3 linked regions of the Homo sapiens genome follow. The protein of the gene in region 3 binds, or shares a complex with, the protein of the main gene of each other region. Each region holds a gene or a part of one and is shown on either strand. Other genes may lie near its edges. The genes, in order: POLR1B, POLR1E and POLR1F.

Region 1 (7,107 bases), on a different chromosome or scaffold from region 3:
ATTACTAAAGAAGCCAGCTCCATACTGGTGCTGTCCAGTGCATAGCCACCAGTCACATGATAAGCACTTCAAATGTGGCCAGTGTAGCTCAAAAACTGAATGCTTAATTTTATTTAATTAAAGTTAAGTAAGCATGAGTTGGGGATCTTGGTTAATAGAATATTAAGTAGTATTACCAACTGAATTGTTTTAAGCTTTTTTTTTTTTCTGTTTTCACAGCCAGTGCATCTGTATCCACTTGAAATCCAATACTGAAAAGTTTTATATGCTTTGTCTCATGACGCGAAAGCTCTTTGCTTTAGCCAAAGGAGAGTGCATGGAGGACAATCCTGATAGTTTGGTGAACCAGGAAGTCCTCACACCGGGTCAGCTCTTCCTTATGTTCCTGAAGGTAAATGCATGCTATGTCCACCCTTGGCCAGTGGTACCACTTGTGGAATGGCGTGACTTTGTCCAGCAGCACTGTTTTCTGCATGTTTATAGTTTCTAGTTTTGGCATTTTGTGTGGTCTCTTTTTTGTTTGTTCATTTAGCAGTAAGGGGATCAGAAATCCTGGCTTACACCAGGTTTGGAAATTTGCTTAATATTTTTATGTAAAGATCACATCAAATCTTGGTCACAGTGTTAATGATAAAAAGCAAATGGCCTGTATTTATACATATGGTTGATCCTCATTATTTGTAGATTCTGTATTTGTGAATTCACTCACTGGCTAAAATTTATTTGTAACCCTAATGTCAGTGCTCAGTGCTTTCATGATTATTCACATACATGAGCAGAGCAGTGAAGAATTTGGGTCTCCTGAGGCAAATGTTACAGCTGAGGCGGGGCAGGGCGATGCTCTGCTTTCCGGTTTCAGCTCATACTATAAAGAGGGTCCTTTTTGAGGTGCATTTGGTGCTATGTTTTTCACATTGTCGTGCTTCTTATTGGTGACTTTTTTGTTTTTTTTTGAGACAGGGTCTCAGCCTCAACCTCCCAGGCTCAAGCAATCCTCCCACCTCAGCCTCCTGAGCAGCTGGGACTATAGACATTCACCACCACACCCGGCTAATTTTTAATTTTTTTTGTAGAAACAGGGTCCCACTATGTTGTACAGGCTGGTCTCAAACTCCTGGGCTCATGTGATCCTCCTGTTTCAGCCTCCCAAAGTGATAGGATTGGAGACATGAGCCACTGAGCCTGGCCAGTTTTTGCTGTTTATAATGGTCCCCAAGCATAGCACTGAAGCGCTGTCTAGTGTTCAGTGTTAATGAATTAACAAGGTATGTTAAATAAGGTGCCTTTCAACAAAAGCTGACATTAAACAAGATTGTATATTGATCCGTTGACCAGAATGTTATGACCAGAGACTTGCAGGAACCCAGCCCTGTATTTTTCCCCAGGAGTAGTGGTTTTATATGTGTTAATTCAGTGTTCATTAGAACATAGCTACTGTGAGTAGTGAAATTTGACTGTAGATGTATATAGAGAGAAAGTTGGCATGGCACAAAAATGATTTCATAAGAATATTGATTCAGTGGCATTTTATATTTTGCATCTTATCCTCAAAAAGATGTAATCTAAGAGTTAATATATTTTTAGTAGAGGTGGGGTTTCACCATTTCAGCCAGGCTGGTCTCGAACTCCTGACCTCAGGTGATCCACCTGCCTCAGCCTCCCAAAGTGCTGGGATTACAGGTGTGAGCCACTGTGCCTGGCTTCTAATTTATTTTATTTTATTTTGAGACAGAGTCTTGCTCTGTCTCCCAGGCTGGAGTGCAGTGCTACGATCTCAGCTCACTGCAACCTCCACCTCCCGGGTTCAAACAATTCTCCTGCCTCAGCCTCCCGGGTATCTAGGATTACAGGCGCGTGCCACCATGCCCGGCGAATTTTTTTATTTTTAGTAGAGACGGGATTTCACCATGTTGGCCAGGCTGGTCTCGAACTCCTGACCTCAAGTGAGCCACCCACCTTGGCCTCCCAAAGTGCTAGGATTACAGGCGTGAGCTACCACACCCGGCCTTCTAATTTCTTATCTAGGTAGTAATTCTTATTTACATTCTTCCCGAAAGGTAATAATCTTTGTTTCTGTTTGCTCTGTCCATAAAATTAGATTGAAAAATTTCAGCAGCCTACAATTTTCCTGACAAAAATTGAAAGCAGGCAGCGTAAGTTTTCTCTTATTAATTTAATGTTATTAAATTAACCTTTCAAGTAAAGGTTAATTTACATTTCCCATCTACTTAAAGTGAAGCATGGTGGGCTCATTGTATTCCACACTTATAAATGTGTCTTTATTCCACATCAATTCCTAATTAGGAAAAAAAAGAAAAGAAAAAGAAATGAGACCAGGAGTACAGTGGCTCATGCCTGTAATCCCAGCACTTTGGGAGGCTGAGGCAGAAGGGTAACTTGAGCCCAAGGAGTTTGAGACCAGCCTGGACAGCACAGAGAGATCGCTACAGAAATAATAAAAACTATTAGCAGTGGCTGGGTGTGGTGGCTCACGCCTATAATCCCAGCACTTTGAGATGCCAAGGTGGGTGGATCTTCTGATCTCAGGAGTTCAAGACTAGCCTGGGCAACATTGCAAAACCCTGTCTCTACAAAAAATATAAAAATTAGCTGGGCATGCTGGCATGCTGCAGCAATTCCAGCTACTCAGGAGGCTGAGGTAGGAGAGTTGCATGAGCCTGGGAGACGGAGGTTACAGTGAGTTGAGATCACGCCACTGCACTCCAGCCTGGGCGACAGAGCAAGACCCTGTCTCCAAAAAAAACCTGTTAGCTGGGCATGGTGGTACATGACTGTGGTCCCAGCCACTTGGGAGGCTGAGGTGGGATCCCTGAGCCCAGGAGGTCAAGGCTGCAATAAGGGGTGATTTTGCCACTGCACTCTAGCCTGGGCAAAAGAGCAAGACCTTATCTCAAAAAGAAAAAAGAAAAAAACACCTGGTGCGGTGGCTCACACCTGTAATCCCAGCACTTTGGGAGGCCGGGGTGGGAGGATCACTTGAGCCCAGGAGTTTGAGATCAATCTGGGCAAACAGCCCAGAGACAAAACTTCGTCTCTACAAATAATTTTAAAAAAATTTAGCCAGGCCTGGTGGGCCACACCTGTGGTCCCAGCTACTCAGCAGGCTGAGGTAAGAGGATTGCCTGAGCCCAGGCGGCGGAGGATGCAGTGTGCTGTGATCACGCCAGTGCACTCCAGCCTAAGTGACAGAGCAAGACCCTGTCTCAACAGAAAAAAGAAATGAGTCTTCTGTAGCAAGGCGTTACTAAGGTGACCTGTGTCAGCAACAAGAGAAACCAAGGGAAAATTGGGGCTTTTTCAGAGAATTCATTGCCGAGTATCTGATTTCCTTACCAGCTACGTTAAAGCTTTTAAACCTTTGAGTTTGGAGCATAAAAACAATCTTCAGAAGATACATAACCATGACATAAGATGAATTATAGACTGTTAAAAATTCACATTGTATTTACATTGAAATAAGCAATATAAAATTGAAAAATAGCAACCATATTTTCTGTATTATTGTAGATTAACCATAAAACACTTCAGTTAGCCTTTCTGGTTTTGATTTTAAACCCAAATAAGGAAGTAGACATAGTTATGAAAAAAAAGGGAGAAGAACACAAACAAATCAGTTGTCAAGATCCAGGGCTTCTTATTCCATCTTGACTGTGAAGATGAAGTGTTCAGTGTACACCTGATAAAAACATTTATGACACAGGAAGATGTAGGCTCAAGAAAGGAATCTAAACAGCAACCAGCAGAGGTGGAGCAGTGATGCCAGGCTCTTCTACTCAAACTTGATTCTCTAGTTTCACTTGATAAAGTCCAAACCTACATTAATACCCTTGTTGGGTGAGCTAACAGCTTCCTTCACTCCCTGGTAATTCCCTTATCTGTACATTACAGATTTTTAGCAGTGTACTTACAAATCCTACTAGTGTGTAGTCAGTTGTGAGATTCATTGTAACATTTTATAAAATATATTCCTTCTTCCCACACCTCTCCAAAATTTATTCCTTCCAAGTACTAAAAATTTAATATTACTGCACCACAGTGATATTAAATGCAGTGTCAGTGCCAGAGAATATGCAGAAATGAAATGTGTCACTTCCAGTGCTGTCTTCTGGAAGAATAGTTAGGTCTTCCAAGTGTGAGTGTTCAAACACTGATAGTTTGAAGAGGTGGATTATCAATAGTCAATGGCTAATGTGTTGACTCAGGGGCCTGCTGGAAAAGGTATACATGAGTGACCTATGTACATCTTCCACGTTTTCTTCCAAATATCAAATATAGGAGAGAACCTATCTCAAACATTCTCTTAGGTATTTTCAGTGGTTTCTGAACCACCCATAGAAAGCGCTGATGGTGTATAGTCTTTTTTTCTTTTATTTTTAGTTGACATGTAATAACTGTACATATTTATCGGGTATACAGTGATTTTTCCATATATGTCAATAATGTATAATGATCAAATCAGAGTAATTAACACATTCATCACCTCAAACATGTATCATTTTTTTGTGTTGTGAACATTCGAAATCCCCTCTTCTAGCTTTTTGAAAATATACAATAAGGCTGGGTGTGGTGGCTCACGCCTGTAATCCCAGCACTTTGGAAGCTGAGGCAAGAGGATTGCTTGAGCCCAGGAGTTTGAGACCAGCCTAGGCAACAAAGTGAGACCCCCATCTCTACAAAAAAAATTTAAAAATTAGCCAGGCATGGTGGCACATACCTATGGTCCCACCTACTTAGGAGGTTAAGGCAGGAGAATCCCTTGAACCCAGGAGGTTGAGGCTGCAGTGAAAAAATATACAACAAATATAGTTAACTGTATTCAACCTACATTGCTGCAGAATACCAGAACTCATTCCTCCAGTCTAGCTGTAATTTTGGAATTGCAGGCTGCTTTAGGCTTTTCACTTAGTGTTGGCAGCATAGATTAAGATGGACTGTGTAGTTCGTGTGATTGGTTTTAGATGTATAACAAGTATAATGGGTGAAGGAGGGCATCACATTGAAGAGCTATCCTTTCTGCACCTGAAAAGCCCTCTTTCAGGTTTTTGGTTTTGATGTATGTTAGTAGACGTTTGTTAAAGATCGTACAGATTACATGGGAATAAATATGAAGTTTGTGATAATTGAAACACATACTATTTTATTTTATTGAGAATAGGGTCTTGCCCTGTTTCCCAGGCTGGAGTGCAGTGGCACAGTCATGGCTCACTGAAGCCTTAGGCTCCTGGACTCAAGCGATCCTTCCGCCTCAGCCTCCCAAGTAGCTGGAACTACAGGCACGCCCCACCCCCTCACCCCACCCCCTCTGGCTAATTTTTTTGTAGACAGGGTTTTGTTTCACCATTTTGCCCAGTCTCATGTTGAACTCTTGGTCTCAAGCGATCCACCCAATCCTGGGATTATAGATGTGAGCCACCACACCTGGCTCACATACTATTTTATATTAATTTTTTTTCCTTATTTCAGGAAAAACTGGAAGGTTGGTTAGTGTCTATTAAAATAGCTTTTGATAAGAAGGCTCAGAAGACCAGTGTTTCCATGAACACTGACAATTTGATGAGGATTTTTACAATGGGCATAGACCTTACAAAACCATTTGAATACCTTTTTGCTACTGGGAATCTGCGTTCTAAAACAGGTAAAATTAAATCGATCGTTTTAGTTATGTTTTTCAAATTAGTTGCTTAGTGTAGATTTGCCTGTCCCTGAGAGTTCTTTTTAAAAGCAAACCCCACGAAAAAAGTAAATTTCTCATAACTATGACTTCGACAACTATTGGTCTAAAGGGCTTTAGACAAGGTGTCTGTATAGCTAAAATTTAATTCAGATAACTGAATACATTTTCTCTGCTTCCTTCTAGAAAATGAAAGGCCACTTAGACCTCTGAGGAAGGCTTACCTAACAGGAACTCTAGATGGGTTGCTGTACATGCCCATCTCTAAACCATTTGCCTTGCCTCAGAGTGACCTGAGAGGCCAGGTGTGGTGGCTCATGCCTGTAATCCCAACACTTTGGGAGACCAAGGTAGGAGGGTCACTTGATCCTAGGAGGTCAAGGCTGCAGTGAGCTGTGATTGCACCACTGTACTCCAGCCTGGTGACAGAGTGAGACCCTGTCTCAACAAAAAAGAGAATGACCCTAGAAACTTAAAAAGTGGTAATTGGGAATTCAGAATTTTTTTTTTTTCTTTTTTGAGTCAGGGTCTCACTCTGTCACCCAGTCTAAAGTGCAGTGGCAGGATCATGGCTCACTGCAGCCTTGACTTCCCAGGCTCAGGTGATCCTCCGACGTCAGCCCCACGAGTAGCTGTGACTACAGGCATAAGCCACAACACCTGGCTAATTTTTGTATTTTTTGTAGAGATGGGGTTTCGCTATGCTGCTGAGGCTGGTCTGGAACTCTTGAGCTCTGGTGAACCACCCACCTTGGCCTCCCAAAGTGCTGGGATTATAGCATGAACCACTGTGCCCCGCCTTTTTTTTTTTTTTTTAAACCCATGTTACTGTTGCCGATTCTTTCATTAGCCTGCTTTCTTGCTTGTCTATTATCTGACTCTCTCAGATGAATTTAACTACTTGCTATTTTATTAACTCATTTAATGTTCACCCACAAAGGAGGTCATAGAGGAGACAGGGAACTAGTTGGGGCTAATACAGTTTGTGAAATCTGGGGATTATTTTACATATTTTTTTGTGAACTCTTTACACTCATCAGAGCTAGGAGAATAAATGTTGTAATAATTCATTCTATGATCTGTAGAGTGCTCTGAGGTTTTGTCGTCATAAAGCCTCAACAATTTCCATTTTTCAAAAGATTGGCCCATTTTTGAATGACTTTTGTTTTATTAAGGTCTTGGCCTCCTACAAGATTCTGGACTTTGTGTTGTGGCTGACAAGCTGAACTTCATACGCTACCTCTCCCATTTCCGCTGCGTGCACAGAGGGGCTGATTTTGCCAAGATGAGGACCACCACAGTACGCAGGCTGCTGCCAGAGTCCTGGGGCTTCCTTTGTCCCGTGCATACCCCAGACGGGGAGCCCTGTGGCCTGATGAACCACCTAACTGCCGTATGTGAGGTTGTCACACAGT
Region 2 (7,079 bases), on a different chromosome or scaffold from region 3:
GTTCAAAAGTTCTCAACCTTCTCTCTGCCCACACACCTGAGGAATGCATCATCTACTCATGGGTAACAATAATCTCCCCTACCCCTACCCCACAGCAATTCTCTGCATAGAGAGGGAATAGGAAAGGATAGGATGGGATGGGAGGATATGAGGTGGTTCTGGGAAAAAAAAAAAAGCTACTAGGTGATTCTGATAGTTGATCACATTTGGGCTCACTGCGGTAGTGTAATGGAAAACTCTTTTGGGGTGTACGAACCTAGAATTACACTACAATTTATGGCACAACAGTTTTATGGAGGCAAAATCAAGTAAACGGGGAGGAGACCAATTGGAACTAGGGCATCTCTGAGAGGGGAGAGTGCAGGGTTAATAGTTCTCAGCACCTATACACCCATCTGACCTCTCCTCTATTGGAGTATGGTCCACCGGGGCTCAGAAAGGGCCTAGTTTGTAGTTCATTGTTGGGTACCATCACAGGGCCCTGTCTGCATCATGCCAGCCCCCGAGAGTGATACAGTTCAGGCTGGACAATCTTCACTGTACAGAGGGGGAGGCTGGGGGTCAGTGATGCGCAGAGTTACCCAGCCACTCAGTCAATCAGCAGCACAGCTGGATGGGAATCCCAGGCTCCTCTTTCCCAGTCCAGAGCCTTCAACACTACCAAGTTCTTTACCTGTCGTTAGTTCCCAGGTAAACTTCACGCAAGCTTTGACCTACTAGTCACACATTCCAAATTAATGGAGAGACCTGCCTTTTGGAATAAGACAGCTATAAATAAACAAGATTACAAATGAATGAGGTTTTTAGGAAATTCAAGTTATCTTTCCTTTCCAGCAACGTCTACACGTGCAGGGAAGGGCTCTGGGTCTAATAGGAACACAGGGATCACCTAGTAAACCTCTCTAGATGGCTCCTGCTACCCTTAAAACAGACAGGAAACAGCAGTGCCAGTGCTGCCACCACTCCCAACCCCATCACCCTTCCCACTGTCCCTTCCCCTGCCATTACCTGCACAAAGTGTTGCATTTGAGGGCTCCAGTCCCAAAATTGTTTCCCACATAGGAGAGCCTATCTGTTTCAGCTGCCTAAAATGCAGAGAGGGGAAACTCCATTTACAACCAATGTTGAAAGGTATTAAGCATCATTTCTCTTTTCTACATTTGCTGAGGCTTTTGAATCCAGACTCACAATGGATTAGAACTAGTTCATCTCTGGCAGATGATCCAGCCCCACTATCTCTAAGGGAATATGGGGTGTCCCTGCAGGGGAAGCAAGACGACTTCTGGAAGAGAAGCCTCAGATGGTGCTAGCTTCTAAATGGTATGAAAAGCTCTTGGGGGAATTCTGCCACAAGACTTGAGAGAGAGGCCCTGGGCTTCTGGCACTTAAAGGTATGCAACAAAGTGATTCTGTAAGCAATCTCTCTTTGGCCTGTTCTTTGTATACTCTCAGGACCATGGCTGATTCACTCCCCAATCATAAGCAAGCTTTCCTGCTTCTCTGCATTTGTCCTCACTATCCTTTTCACTCGAAACACCAAACGTTGACTGCCAAACCCTCATTCCAGCCTTCAAGGCTCAGCTCCAACATGACCTCACCAAGGAAGGCATTCTGGCAGAGACCTCTCCTCCCACTGAGCTCACTCTGCCCTGTACTCTTCCCCACGTGGCCTCAGAGCTTTGTGTAAAAGTGTCCCTCACAGCCAGTTCTCATCTCTCTAGAGCAGAGGTTCTCAATCCAGGGAAATCCACTCTGGTGCTACTGGCATCTAATGAGTAGAGACTAGGGATGCTGCCCCCACAGCAAAGAATTATTGGCCCAAAAAGTCAATAGTCCTGAGGTTGAGAAACCCTGCTCTAGAGTATGAACTCTGAGTGGGGCTAGGCCTGATTTGGCTGTTTTCCTAGAAGCTTGCAGCACAGGGATGCAGAGGGGCAGGTTCCATAAATGCTTGTTGAAAGAACAAATGAATGAAAGATGGAGCCTGTCCCCACATCCCAGGCTGCTGGGCATCAGAGTTCTTCAAAGCTCCATTTGCTACTACTCCCCTTTTTCTCCCCTCACTCCCTCCCACATCCACCCACTCCCAGGGGCCTTCTGAGCCCTGCAGAGTGGAGACAGCTGGCAACTGCTTCACTTACCAGGATCCGTTGATTCCTCTTCCTGGGGTTGGTGGAATCTTTGTTCTCATACAAGGTAAAGCGCATGTTGCCTGGACTCTGTAGCTTCCCGTTGGAGAACTGGACTGTAAGAGTGCAGCCCAAGAATGAGATGAGAGCAGAAGGCCACACAATGTACCACACAATGTACGGTGGGACTAGACTGTCACTGGGAGGGAGTGTCAGAATGGGGATGGCAAGGAAGCTCGGGTCCTGACCCAAAGGGAACTGGAGGAGATCCGGGGCCAGCTGAGAAGAGGAGGTAGGGAGGTGGGAGAACCCTGGGGAGGGGCTGTGACAGGAGGGAATGTCTCGCGGAAGGAGGCTGACAGCAGAGGCCTGGTACATACCTAAAGTGACAGAAGGAACCCCTGCCCAGTGAAGAGAGGGAAATGGGGGAGGCGGGAGACCTGGTGGGTGAGGGGGTCAGCAGGGTCCTGGACACAGCTCTGGGGAGCGGGTGAGTGGGATGTCCCAATCTGGCTGGGAGGTAGTGACAGAAAGACGGACAGGGGAGCCCTGACAGAGCCCAGGGGAGTGGTGGAGACTAGAGGGGTCCCGGCCCCGCTGGGGAGAAGCCCAACGGAGGGCGAGAGGACAGCTGAGGTACCGAGACGGAAGGGGAGAGGGTTAGAGGAGCACTGCTCCAGCTCCGCAGTCTTTACCCAGTACAGCTCTCTGGCTCCCGTCGGGCGCCCCACAATACTGCCACCTCGCACTCGGCAACACCTCCGCCGCCATCTCGCCTGTCTGTCCGCCAAGCACAGGAGTTAAGACAGCAGCAGCCACAAGCGCACTTTTAAACACGCGGGAGCCCAGGCCGCGCTGCGGGCCGGAAAAGGCGTGGCCCCGCCGGGCACCGCCCACAGCGCGCGAGCCGCGTGTCCCCGCCCCCCGCGTAGAGAGGCGTGGTCTCCGCCCACAAGGTGCCACACACCCGCTTGACTGGCCGAGGCGCAGCACCTGATTGGCTCAGCGCTCGCGTGCACTCTGGGTTTTGTAGGTCCAGAGCCCGAGGCGCCAAAGGCTTCAGCCTAAGCTTGCTATGAGCCTTCTTCCGGCTCAGCACCTTCTAAAGAGAGTGTCGTCTCTCTCTCCTACCGTGACAAACTCATCTTCCCAAGACCTGAAGGACCAAGTTCAAATTTAGAATTCTCTGACAGGAACTGCTTGAGCCCCAACTAAATGTGGCCGCTGGCGAATAGCCGCCCCTCTCTAGGGCTTCCCACCCACCCACGTGGACATCCAGCTCTAGGTACAAACTTTGTCCACAGTCCGACAAACAGCTCCCCGCCATGGGCTGTGGCGTGCACACCTGTGGCCCAATCAACACTGAGGTGATGGAACAGAAGCCCAGCCAACCCCGGAGCCTTTGGGCAGGAGATTCTGGACTGGAATAGAAGAGGGAGTCCGAGCTGATGGACATGTCCCTTTTTCACTGCGGATTCAACCCTTCTTCTGCACGGGGAGTTTTCAGAGCAGAAAGAAGGCGAAAGCAGGGCCTTTAAGCATGGACGCTGGCCGAGGCCCCCTTTGCCCAAAGATGCGTACTATTGAAGGGCAAGAACTCCGGTTGACTCCCCTCTGTCTTCCAAATCACCTTCTTTCAAGACTCTTTTCCTTCCACACACCCTCAACACCCGCCTCCAACACCCAGGATCCTAGGAATAACCCTAAAGCCTGCATGCCCCTTTGCCTGAGCACTTGTCACGCTTTTCTAATTACCCAATCTCAAACGTAAAGAAACACTGCAAGAAATGTTTTTGCCCTGAACCATTTAGAGTAAGTTGTCAACCTGATACCCTTTCAACCCTGAAGACTATAGTATTTCCTACAGACATTCCCTAAATAACAACACAGCCATCAGAATCAGCAAATTGCCGGGCGCAGTGGTTCACGCCTGCAATCCCAGCACTTTGGGAGGGAGAGGCAGTTCTATCCCTTGATTCCAGGAGTTTGAGACCAGGCTGGGCAACATAACAAGACCCTGTCTCTACAAAAAATAATATTAGCCATGTGTGGTGGCGCACGCGTGTCGTCCCAGCTACTCGGGAGGCTGAGGTGGGAGGATTGCTTGAGCCTAGGAGGCAGAGGCTGCAGTGAGCTGTGATGGTGCCACTGCACTCTAGCCTGGGCGACAAAAAAAAAAAAAAAAATTAAACAGAAAAGAATCAGGAAATTAGCACTGGTACATTACCACCATGTAATCCTCACATCCCATTTAAGTTCACCCATTGTCCCAACGTTTGTTGTTAGTTTGTTTTTTGAGACAGGGTCTCACTCTGTCACCCAGGCTGGAGTGCAGTGTTGCAACCAGGGCTCACTGCAGCCTTGACCTTCCAGGCTCAAGTGATCCTCTCACCACAACCTGGGAATACAAGTGTGTGCCACCACACTCAGTTTTGTTTTGTTTTTTCTTAATTAAAAAAATTTTTTGTAGAGACTAGGTCTCACTGTGTTGCCAGGGCTGGTCTCAGACTCCTGGGCTCAAGTGATCCTCCCACCTTGGCCTCCCAAAGTTCTGGGATTACAGGCGTGAGCCATTGCAGCTGGCCCAATCATGTTTTTATAGCAAAAATGTCCTGTCAAGAATCATGTGTTGCATTTAGCTCTCATAGCCTTTCCTCCCTTAGAAGGCTACCTTGCTTGACCCCACCTCATGATTTTGGATTGAATTGTTCAGGAAAGGAAAAGGGAAGAAGAAGAAAGAAGAAAGAAGGATGAAGAAAGAAGAGCTTAATTGTGTGATTGTCTCACCCATTGATTGTTTCCTCACTAAACTTACTTGGGGTTCACAATAAACACTTTGGAGGTTAATAAACAAATTTATGTTTGTTTTGATCACTGCTTTATCTCCAAATCCTGAACATACTAGACCCTCAATAAATATGGAATGAATTAATGAATGACAGGGCAAAGAATGGGCCTGAATTATCACTAATCTTGGAAGCCTAGCACAGGGACTGGAACTCAAAGATGTTTGGTAATATTGGTTGAAATCAACTAGCATAGGGTTTACACATAACAGACTCTATAAATGTTTTTTGGTTGAATGAAAATATGAACAGTTAAATCAAAGTTAAAGGTGACCAAGATAACAGTGGCTACAATGAGCCAAGTATAGTTCTTAAGAGAAGTATCTTGTGATATAGGAACACATTATATGGCCTTGTTACTCATGATATAGGAACACATTGTATGGCCTTGTTACTCAAAGTGTGGTCCATGGAAACAGCAGCCTCGACAGCACCTGGGAACTTGTTAGAAATATAGGATCTCCAACCCTATCAAATCTTCTGCAACAGGATCTGCAGGTGATTCATGTGCACTTGAAGTTTAGGAATCACTGTTATACCGGACTGATTCCCCTTTAAGGCACATATTTGCCAGTCAGACAGATTATGTGCAAGTCCCCTGGATTGACTGTTTTGTAGCGAGGACAAAGAGTGAAGAGTACAACACACCCACTGAAGCAAAAACTCCTAGAATTACCACAGGCAAGAATTCCAAATGACGGAGATTCTATCCGTGGAAGCAAAGTGTTGATGGTCAGGCAGCTGGGAAGGGGATCATAGTATACCCCTGTGTTGTTTAATTATTTAACAGTTATTCAAAAGACACACCTATACACACCATGTACATATACATACGTGCCTGTGTAACTGGGATGGGGCAGGATGGAGGTGGGATGGGGCAGGATGGAGGGAGCCCTACATAGGCATTAACCAAAATGCAAAAACCTATAGTGGCCTCTTTTATTTTTTTATTTTATTTAATTATTTATTTATTTTTTTGAGGCGGAGTCTCACTCTTGTCGCCCAGGCTGGAGTGCAGTGGTGTGATCTGGGCTCACTGCAACCTCCGCCTCCTGGGTCCAAGCAGTTCTCCTGCCTCAGCCTCCTGAGTAGCCAGGATTACAGGTGCCCACCACCACGCCCGGCTAATTTTTGTAGTTTTGTTAGAGACAGGGTTTCACCATGTTGGCCAGGCTGGTCTCGAACCCCTGACCTCAAGTGATCCACCTGCCTCAGCCTCCCTAGGTGTTGGGATTACAGGCGTGAGCCACCACACCTGGCCAGGTGGCCTCTTTTATATTCAAATCGTGGATAATCACAGGCAAAATTTACCACATAATTTTTTTTGGAAATTTAGTTTGGAAATAATTCAGAGACACCTGGAGTTCTCTTTTAGTATCATTTTTCAGAGAAGGAAAATGGTTTTCCAGAGGGCAAAAGGAGAGGGAGAAAAGCAAAGTCCTCCTTTCCTGGGGTAATATCTCCATCTGCTGGTGTTTCAGGATAACACTAACAAAGACCTGAAAAGGCGAGTCAGATTCCATACTGTTTGCAGTGACTCGCCCTGTACTCTGGGGAATGGCTTCTTTTTTTTTTTTTTTTTTTTTTTTTGGAGACAGAGTCTCGCTCTGTCACCCAGGCTGGAGTGTAGTGGCGCGATCTCGGCTAACTGCAACCTCTGCCTCCCGGATTCAAGCAATTCTCCTGCCTCAGCCTCCTGAGTAGCTGGGATTACAGGCGTGCATCACCATGCCCGGCTAATTTTTGTATTTTTAGTAGAGATGGGGCTTCACCATGTTGGTCGGGCTGCTCTTGAACTCCTGACCTCGTGATCCCCTGCCTCAGCCTCCCAAAGTGTTGGTATTACAGGCGTGAGCCACCGCGCCCGGCCGAGAATAGCTTCTTCTGTCTCACCTCTTCTCTTCCTTTCTTGTCCCTCTGCTTCTCTTTTTCCTCCCTTCCTTTCTCCCTCTGTGTTTGTCTCACTCTCTTGTTCTCTCCTCTGGTCATTCCCATTCCTTTCCTTCATATCCCTGATGCAGACCCTCTTTGCATACCTACACACATGGATGACTCACTCCTTAAAAGGTGGACTTCTCACCTTGAACAGGTTTTTTCCTTACAT
Region 3 (8,013 bases):
ATGTTTGAATTTCACACATGACTCTAAGGCCTTTGATAGCAAAGAATATTTTTTGTTGAACTCAAACTTCTAACAATTCACATAAAATAAGGGAAAGAATTTATCCCTAACAGATGTTGTTTAGTAAAACAGCCAGAAGCCACAGAAAATACACTTTAAGAATTACCAAATTAGGAAAACCCTAACTCAGAGACTTACTCGGGAAAGCAATTTTCTGAGGTTTTAATTTCCGCATGTGGCATTCCTAAGCTGGAATCATCCTATCACTAAGACAATGTTAGGGACACAGAAAACAGAGAATAGGAAGAAAAATTAACTGCCATACTAGACAGAAAAACAAATTATCAAGACTTTATTTCCGCTAATCAAAGCCTTGTCTCTCAAGTATCAGAGTGATTCTCAAGGGGAAGGAGGGCTGTGGTCCCCTGGTGGAAGGGGGGACATGTGGAAATTTGTGATACTAGTCATGGTTATCACAAACTTTGCAGAAGCCAGGGAAGAAAAGAGTCTGTCATGTACAGGACAGTCTGATACAATGAGGAAATGTCCTTCGCTCTGACTTTTGAATAAAAGGACAAATCTATTTACAAATAGCTAGGCACCTAATTTAACTCTTAAAACACATCAACACAAAGTCATCTTTGCACAGTTTTAATATATATTAAAATTTTCAGGAACTTAGCAGTATATAAATTCAAGGGGGATTTTGTTAAAAGTCATCAGATATGTGAACACAGGCACCCAACACTATATACTTTTTCCTCCTTCACTTTTGTTTTTCAGATACCATCCTAAATAGGTATCAGGGCAAGGTGGTAGCCTCACTTCAGTTCTTTAATACTATATGTTCAATGTTTTGTCCCTTATTAGTAATGCATAGTTCAAAGTGTGGTGCCTGATTTGCACTTGAATAAACAGCATACCCAAGTAATATGGAAGGAGTGGTGTCCAGATCTGTTCAGAGCCACTCTGCGTGATTTCCCCCTCTAGCCTGTCAAGTGCAGGCAGTACTGGTTACAGAAAACAAGATAGTTGCTTGTGTTTCCAAATGTTATGACTACTTTGTATATCCTTTAATTTCTCAAATCCATCCTCTCTAATCATTTTCTCTTGGACAATTATAACATTATCTTAATTCCTCTCCTTGTCCACTTTCTCATCCTATTTGGTAGCTAACCATTAAGTAAATGTTGTTTCTTAAACTGCAAATCTGATATGCCAGGGACTGCAGAGAAGTACTAGTTTCTCAAAAGTGTGCCAAGTCTCAGCGTTAAAGGGACTGAGAGGACGGAGCACTAACCCTGCTTAAGAAAACAGAAACACAAAAGGAAAAACAACAACAACCCCACCTTACCCCCAAAATAACAAAAACTGGCAATGGCAGGAAGGGAAAAGCAAAATGGCCATCCTCTCTGAGTCATCTTTGACCCCCTGCCCTCCTCTCCAATGGCATCCAATGCCTTTCCCCTGACATAAACCTTATTCTACTTATATAATAGATACAGTTCTCTGGGCAAAGCATACCAGTTCACATCCAGTATCCGTTTGTTTATGCCACTCTCTTTGCCTGGAATGTTACCATGTTAAAGTACCCTCTTCAATCAAGTTGTTCTCAAAGGTCCCAAGATCCAAATTCTACACTCCTTATCTTATTAGATTTCTGTCAAATTTTAACACTTTACTATTTATTGGCTTGTATTTGTATCTCTCCTACAGCTTAAAGCTCCTTGAAACAGAGATTTTATTTTTTGTTTTTGTATCTCAAGTGTTCGGTATGTAATATAAACATACAAGAAGTGTATATTGGTGCTTGGAAGAATCTGCAGATTCTAGACATGGGTGGAGGTCCAGGATCCCTTAAGAAACTGATAAAAACTTCCGATGCAGTGCCCAAGGAACTTCACATAGGAATTCCTGAAGGGCAATCATGAATCCCTAGAGAATCCATTCCCTCTAGTTTTAGAACCCCGCTTTTAAACCAAAGTATAGTCCAGAGGAATACTCAAGCACATGCCCGCGCCCCCCGCCCCACACCTCTGTAATTCTAAGTTTTCAAGTCACTTTTGAATACCGTAATATAAATGCATACGTTTTGGTTTTTTCTCTCCCCAAAGCAACAGGCTCACTAGTTCGACTGAATAAATCTTCTTAAAAACAACAAAATCCCGCTAAACTAATGGCATTTTCATAATCCCCAGATCAGGTCCAAGAGAAGAGAAAATGGGGAAATTACCAGAGCGAAATCCAACAACAAAAAAGGTCCTTCATGTTTTACAAATAGAACGGTTGTACTAATGCTTCGTATGCTATCTTCTATGGAATGAGAATCTACTCAAGCACTGCAAACCAGATTTTTATCGTCAAATGAGAAAGCATCATCCGTAAGGGGATAAATGAAACGTTGAATGCCAAACAGAACTGGGCCTACTAGGTCTCCAGATCCCTGGTCTTTTCCTACCCCTACACCAGGGTTCTGGAGCAAGAATCTCCACTCCCTCCGCCCACACCTGAACTTCATCTTTAAGTTTTCTTCTCTATCTATGAAAGGGACCCTGTATAGATCTTTACCAGAGCGGTACTGGCCTTGAGGGACGGATCGCGACTCTAGAAATCCAGGGGGCTAAGCTCTGGGGGGCAATGCGACCTTTGCCATTTGCCCCTTTCTGCTGCGTCGTCAGCACATCCACCTGCTTTACTTCCCGTGCACAAAAGAAGGAACAGGCAAAGAGATCGGTACCTCTCAGAATAGCGAAGGAGCTCCGCATCAAGCTGTTCTCGAATGCCGGTGCGTTTCCTGTTAAGGTAGCGGGGCGACAGCGCGATGTGCCTTTGGTGCGGCCCGGCCACCAGGCATGAGTAGCGACTGTTCACCAGCGCACAAGCAGCGGCATAAGTCGGCAACTCTAGGCAAGGCAGGACGCCAGCCTGCCCTACCAGAGACCCATCAGAAGCCGCCGCTGGCCGCGGCGCCTCTGAGCAACCTGCAGCCATGCTGCTTGTCAAGGTTCCCACGGCGCGCGCCGTTGACGCAAGCACAATCCCATGTCCCCGGCGCTCGTTTTACGCCATCCACCAACGACCACGCCCCTAGGAATTTCCCCTCTTTTCGCTGCATTACGCAGCCCTGACCAGCAGGGGGAACCGCGTTTTCGCGCTTCGAGAACGGGAGCTTAGAGCCTCGGAAATGCATTGAGCACGCAGGAAAGCCAACCGACTGCTCTTTTAAGGGCAGGCAAATGTGTGTTTTCGCACAGAGGCTTATTGGATTAAGTAGGTAGCTTAAAAATGGGGGTTCTCACTTTGATCATTTCCAGTAGTGAGGTGGGTTTGGTAGAATTTTACAGGCTTGGACTGTACAATAAAAAATCAAAATATTTATGGAGTATATTTTATGCAGTACACGGAATCCTAAGCAGGCCTGATAATTGTAATGCAACGCATCTGAAAACGAACCCACTAGTTCTCTCCTGTCCCGCTTCTCTTCTCATTATGCAACTGCTAAATCAGGGAATCATACAGCCAAGCTGTCAGCCTCGGATCCTCTTTTGTATCCCCAAGTATCAAATCAGCCTGAAGACCTGTATTGCCCAAAGTGGAAATATCATTCTATTTGGACACTATTCTCTTTCCCTGCCGCCAAAACCGCAGGACTCCCTGCCTGTGGAAGCCTAGCTCAATGGTCAGGAGGACACTCTGGGGCAGCCAGATCTTCCCTGAAATACATATGATCGTGTTGTGCCCTGTTTAAGCCCTACATAGGCACCCCATTTTCTCTAGGACAACACAAACTCATGAAAATGGCTTATAAGTTACAAGGCCATTTTGTGATCTGCGTGGGCACACAGCCTCTCTCTTCAGCTTCATTTGTCACACTCCCCACCCTAATATTATCATGCTGCTTGATCTACTTTCAGGTCTCTCTTTGTGCAGTCTCACGCTGTTCCTTCCACCAGGGAATATAATAGCATTTTTCACAAGGGTAAATTCTACTCATGTATGAATTTCTAGCTTAGATTTTACATTCTATACCTTTGCAAAGAGTTTTCAAGCACCCCACTCCTCTTTCTCTATAAGGATTAGGTAGTTACCCATCTATGTTGGTTTTTATGTTAATTTTTTATTAACTGTCTTTGCTTGCCTGTTCCATCAATAGATTCCTACACTCACTAAAGTGGGGACCATAATATCTGTATTGTTCACTACAGTAGCCCCCCACAATTTATCCCTCCTCCAAAGAAACGAAACCAAGAAAAACCCAACCAATACATCTTGAATGAATAACCTGATAGTGAGTTAATAAATAATAAGTGATAAAGAGCTCACAGCCTAAGTGGAAGTGGGATCTAAACATAAACATATAACAGGTTATGCTGGATAAGTGCCAAGAGAAATGTATAGCAGTGATGTGAGTATTAACATACTCCCTCATCTCCTAAATACTGCAAAAAGCCTCTTAGCCTCTCTAAACCTGATTTCTGACTTGTAAAATACGAAAAATAATACTTGCCCTGCTACCTTAGAGAGATGATAGGAGGGTCAAACAAGATAAATAAAAGGCATTTTCTTTAATATTCCTTAAATAACTGCAAACTCAGCATGAGATGATAGTGGGATGAGACTGCCCCCAAAACCTAATAGTAGACACTTTTAAGTCCATAAATGGGAAACATAATGGCTTTTACCTTCATTTTGTTGCAAAGTCCTGTGATACCCCTGTGCAGGACCCTTTTGTTCAATGTGCTCAAACTTGGCTAAACAATGAAGTCACCTAAGGTGAGGAGCTTTAAGAACTCCTGATGCCCGGATGACATCACAGATCAATTCAATCAAAACCTCTCCAGGTGACTACACCTTACAGTCAAGATGGATCTAGACTGGCTGTAAGTGATTTGAATGAAAACAATTTGGCCAAGAAAGAATTTAGTAAAAAACAAGCTGGACATCATGACAATTTGATCAAAACAAAACGTTACCTGAAATCAAATATTCCAGTAATAATCTTTCACAACTAGTAAATGTAGTGCACCCATGCAGTAGTTTTGTAACCCTAGGTATGTCCAGTTGCAGTTAGAAGTTTGCTTGTTTAAATTTTGAAACTGATTTTCTCATTTTCAGTTTTAAAAATTCTGACTTGATCATTAGCTGCTATCCATGCTCTGCATGATTTGAGAGCGAACAAGGTGATTCTGCCTGCATGCCAGTGTTCACCATTGTGGGGTTACTTTACAAATTAACCTGCTCCACCTTCGACACAGGGAAGAAAACAGAAATAACCATGAGTTCCTCCTACCTACCCTACCCTGCAGACATATACAAAGTTTATTTGTTCAAAGACCTGTAGTTGAACTGAACCATTTTATTTTTCTCTAAAATTTGTCCAAGTTCCACAAAAAGTAAGGCATTGGTGGTCCCTGTCTCATGAAAAGCTCTGTCAAGTCAAAGGCAATGTGCTGAGAAGATCTTCATTCTACAAGGAGGAGAAAGAAAGTTAGAAATAATTTTGACCCCATGACCAATGGCCTCAGAGGAAGAGAGAGAAAATTTCCTGTGCAACTGTCTGTATTATTTTATCACTGACCTTGCCACCTCCAGCATGCACACACATATACCTTATTATATTAGTGTGTTTCTATTCCTCACAATCAGATAATCCCTGGAGCAACATAAATGTGCAAAAATTGGTGGTTTGCTGAAATAAATAATGGTGGTTACAAAGTAATATGTGACATATGCTCTGATTGTTACAGAACACATGCACATTTATATGCTTAGAAAAAAATCATGGGGCACATGATTGTATTCATGCATCTAGGTCAACAACAGCTGATCTATATGACGGTGGCCCTGTAAGTTTATAATGCCATGTCTTTTTACTGTATCGTTTCTATGTTTAGATATACTTAGTTGCACAAATACTTGCCACTGTGTTACGGTTTCCTACAGTATTCAGTACAGTAACAGGCTGTCCAGGTTTGTAGACCAGGAGCAATAGGCTACAGGCTATTTATCAACCAGCTAAATAGCAATAGGCTATTTATCAATCAAGGAATCTAACCCAGGCATGACTTATGCCATAACTTATCCTTTCAATTACTAAAGATCTTCACATTTTCTATGTACATGACCAAAGCTGATAAAGGAGGAGATTAGCATAGCACATCATATAGCGTAAGTGTGTAGTAAGGTATGTCATCTGGATTTATGTAAGTATGCTCTATGATGTTCATGCAATGATGAAATTGCCTCATTATGCATTTCTCAGAATGTATCCTTGTCATTAAGCGACACATGTCTATACCATATGTTAAAGTTAGTCATCTCTTGAGTATGAATTTATACTTTCCTTTTATTTTTGTGAATTTTTATATATTATTTTAATGTTTATACAGAAAAAAATCAGAAACTTAATCAGAAGATTTAAGTTGTTACAGGACATACTCTAGTTTTAGATGATTTAATAGTGTTGGTTGGTGCAAAAGTAATTGTGGGTTTTGCCATTACTCTTAGTGGGAAAAATGACGCTTACTTTTGCACCAGCCTTAATACAAGGAGAAGAGCCTCCTAGATGCTAAAGTCACATTGCTTGAGTTCATATCCTGGCTCTGTCACTTACTAGATGTGTGATGTTAGGCACATTTCTTTCATTTTTCAAAAAGCTAAAATTATTACAGTAGGATTATGTGAAGATGGAATCAGACAGGAATTTTTGACTATATGTAATGGTTTGCATAAAAAATTCCTATAAAGAGCATTCCATGAAAAATGTCATTGTATCAGTTAGCTTTTGCTGCATAACAAACTATCCTCAAATGTAGTGGCTTTAAATAAAACTATTAATTTAACTCATAATTCTATGGGTACAAATTTGGGCAGCACTCAGTTGGGTTCACTTGTGCATCTGTCCTCATGTGTGGCCCCATGTGTCTGGTGTTCCAGCAGGCTAGAGTGAGCTTGCTCTCCTGGCAGCTATGCAGATTTCCAAGATAGAGCAGGAAGCACACAAGACCTTCTGTCTAGACTCTAGAACTTCCACAATGTCAATCCAATGTATGGGGTACATCTGATCTCATGTACTTTGTTCTTTGCCTCAGAGAGGCTCAGAAGCTTCTTCTGTCATATATCAGGGGTATATACGTCCCTAGGAATGCCCACCCTGGATAAAGAGCAATACTAGTACTGACAGGAAGGATTTAATCACACTTATATGACTGTTTATATCAAATTGGTGGAATGAGTGATGAGTGTCAACATCACAATGACCAACATTATCACAGGTAAACTTTACTACAAACCTGCCAGATGCTATGCCAAGTGCCCTAGGTAAATCACTGACAGATAATCTTTATGAATTGATTACACTAATGACATATATTTACAAGCGAGAAGCCTGTATTCTAAAAGAAATGTCAGCCTCATGATGGTAGCTATCCTCTCTGTATTGCTAACAGTCATATGCCCAGGGCCTAATGCATACTCCTTGAGTGAATGAACCAATGACTTTCCCAAGAATACCCAGCGATTTATCAATAAAGGAATCTAACCCAGGCATGAGTTATCCCATAATTTATGCTTTGAATCACTAAAGATCCTCACTTTTTCTATGTCTATATCAAAAACTGATGAAGAAGGAAATTGTAAAAATTGATGGTTTATTTTATTTAGTCTCTGCCTAGAAAAGTGCTAAGGTAAGATATTTGACCAAATTGGTAAATATTAACATTTTAGTAGGATTGGAAAGGTGTCAAACAAGCACCAGTTTTAGCCGAAATATATATAATACAGGGTATATCAACCAAATGTTTGTTGATGCAGACCACTTGTGTTTCACAAATTTGCCAGCAGATGGCAAAAATGAGCTTAAATTTGTAAAGTTTTGCTTTAGCTTAAGGACTGTAGAAATGACAAAAGTGAAGGGAAACTTTATTGATGGCTTGTTTTTATCTACAATCCTTCTTCAACAGAGAACTTAGGATAAATTTTTGACTCTGAAGGCTCCTTCTACTTGCTTGTTAG

The links.
Region 1: POLR1F (region 3) and POLR1B share a complex: the UniProt entries of both Homo sapiens proteins name them as parts of the RNA polymerase I (Pol I) complex.
Region 2: POLR1F (region 3) and POLR1E share a complex: the UniProt entries of both Homo sapiens proteins name them as parts of the RNA polymerase I (Pol I) complex.

Annotation. Positions count from the first base shown.
Region 1 is NC_000002.12:112,552,426-112,559,532, forward strand, and holds part of POLR1B (DNA-directed RNA polymerase I subunit RPA2), read left to right. Parts: intron 1-219; coding exon 220-391; intron 392-1,113; exon of another isoform or gene 1,114-1,265; intron 1,266-2,098; exon of another isoform or gene 2,099-2,154; intron 2,155-5,484; coding exon 5,485-5,656; intron 5,657-6,867; coding exon 6,868-7,107. UniProt on the Homo sapiens protein: Catalytic core component of RNA polymerase I (Pol I), a DNA-dependent RNA polymerase which synthesizes ribosomal RNA precursors using the four ribonucleoside triphosphates as substrates.
Region 2 is NC_000009.12:37,481,869-37,488,947, reverse strand, and holds the start of POLR1E (DNA-directed RNA polymerase I subunit RPA49), read right to left. Parts: upstream 3,001-7,079; 5' UTR 2,901-3,000; coding exon 2,825-2,900; intron 2,716-2,824; exon of another isoform or gene 2,508-2,715; coding exon of another isoform or gene 2,246-2,507; coding exon 2,142-2,245; intron 1,086-2,141; coding exon 1,009-1,085; intron 1-1,008. UniProt on the Homo sapiens protein: Component of RNA polymerase I (Pol I), a DNA-dependent RNA polymerase which synthesizes ribosomal RNA precursors using the four ribonucleoside triphosphates as substrates.
Region 3 is NC_000007.14:19,706,026-19,714,038, forward strand, and holds the start of POLR1F (DNA-directed RNA polymerase I subunit RPA43), read right to left. Parts: upstream 3,013-8,013; 5' UTR 2,992-3,012; coding exon 2,738-2,991; intron 1-2,737. UniProt on the Homo sapiens protein: Component of RNA polymerase I (Pol I), a DNA-dependent RNA polymerase which synthesizes ribosomal RNA precursors using the four ribonucleoside triphosphates as substrates.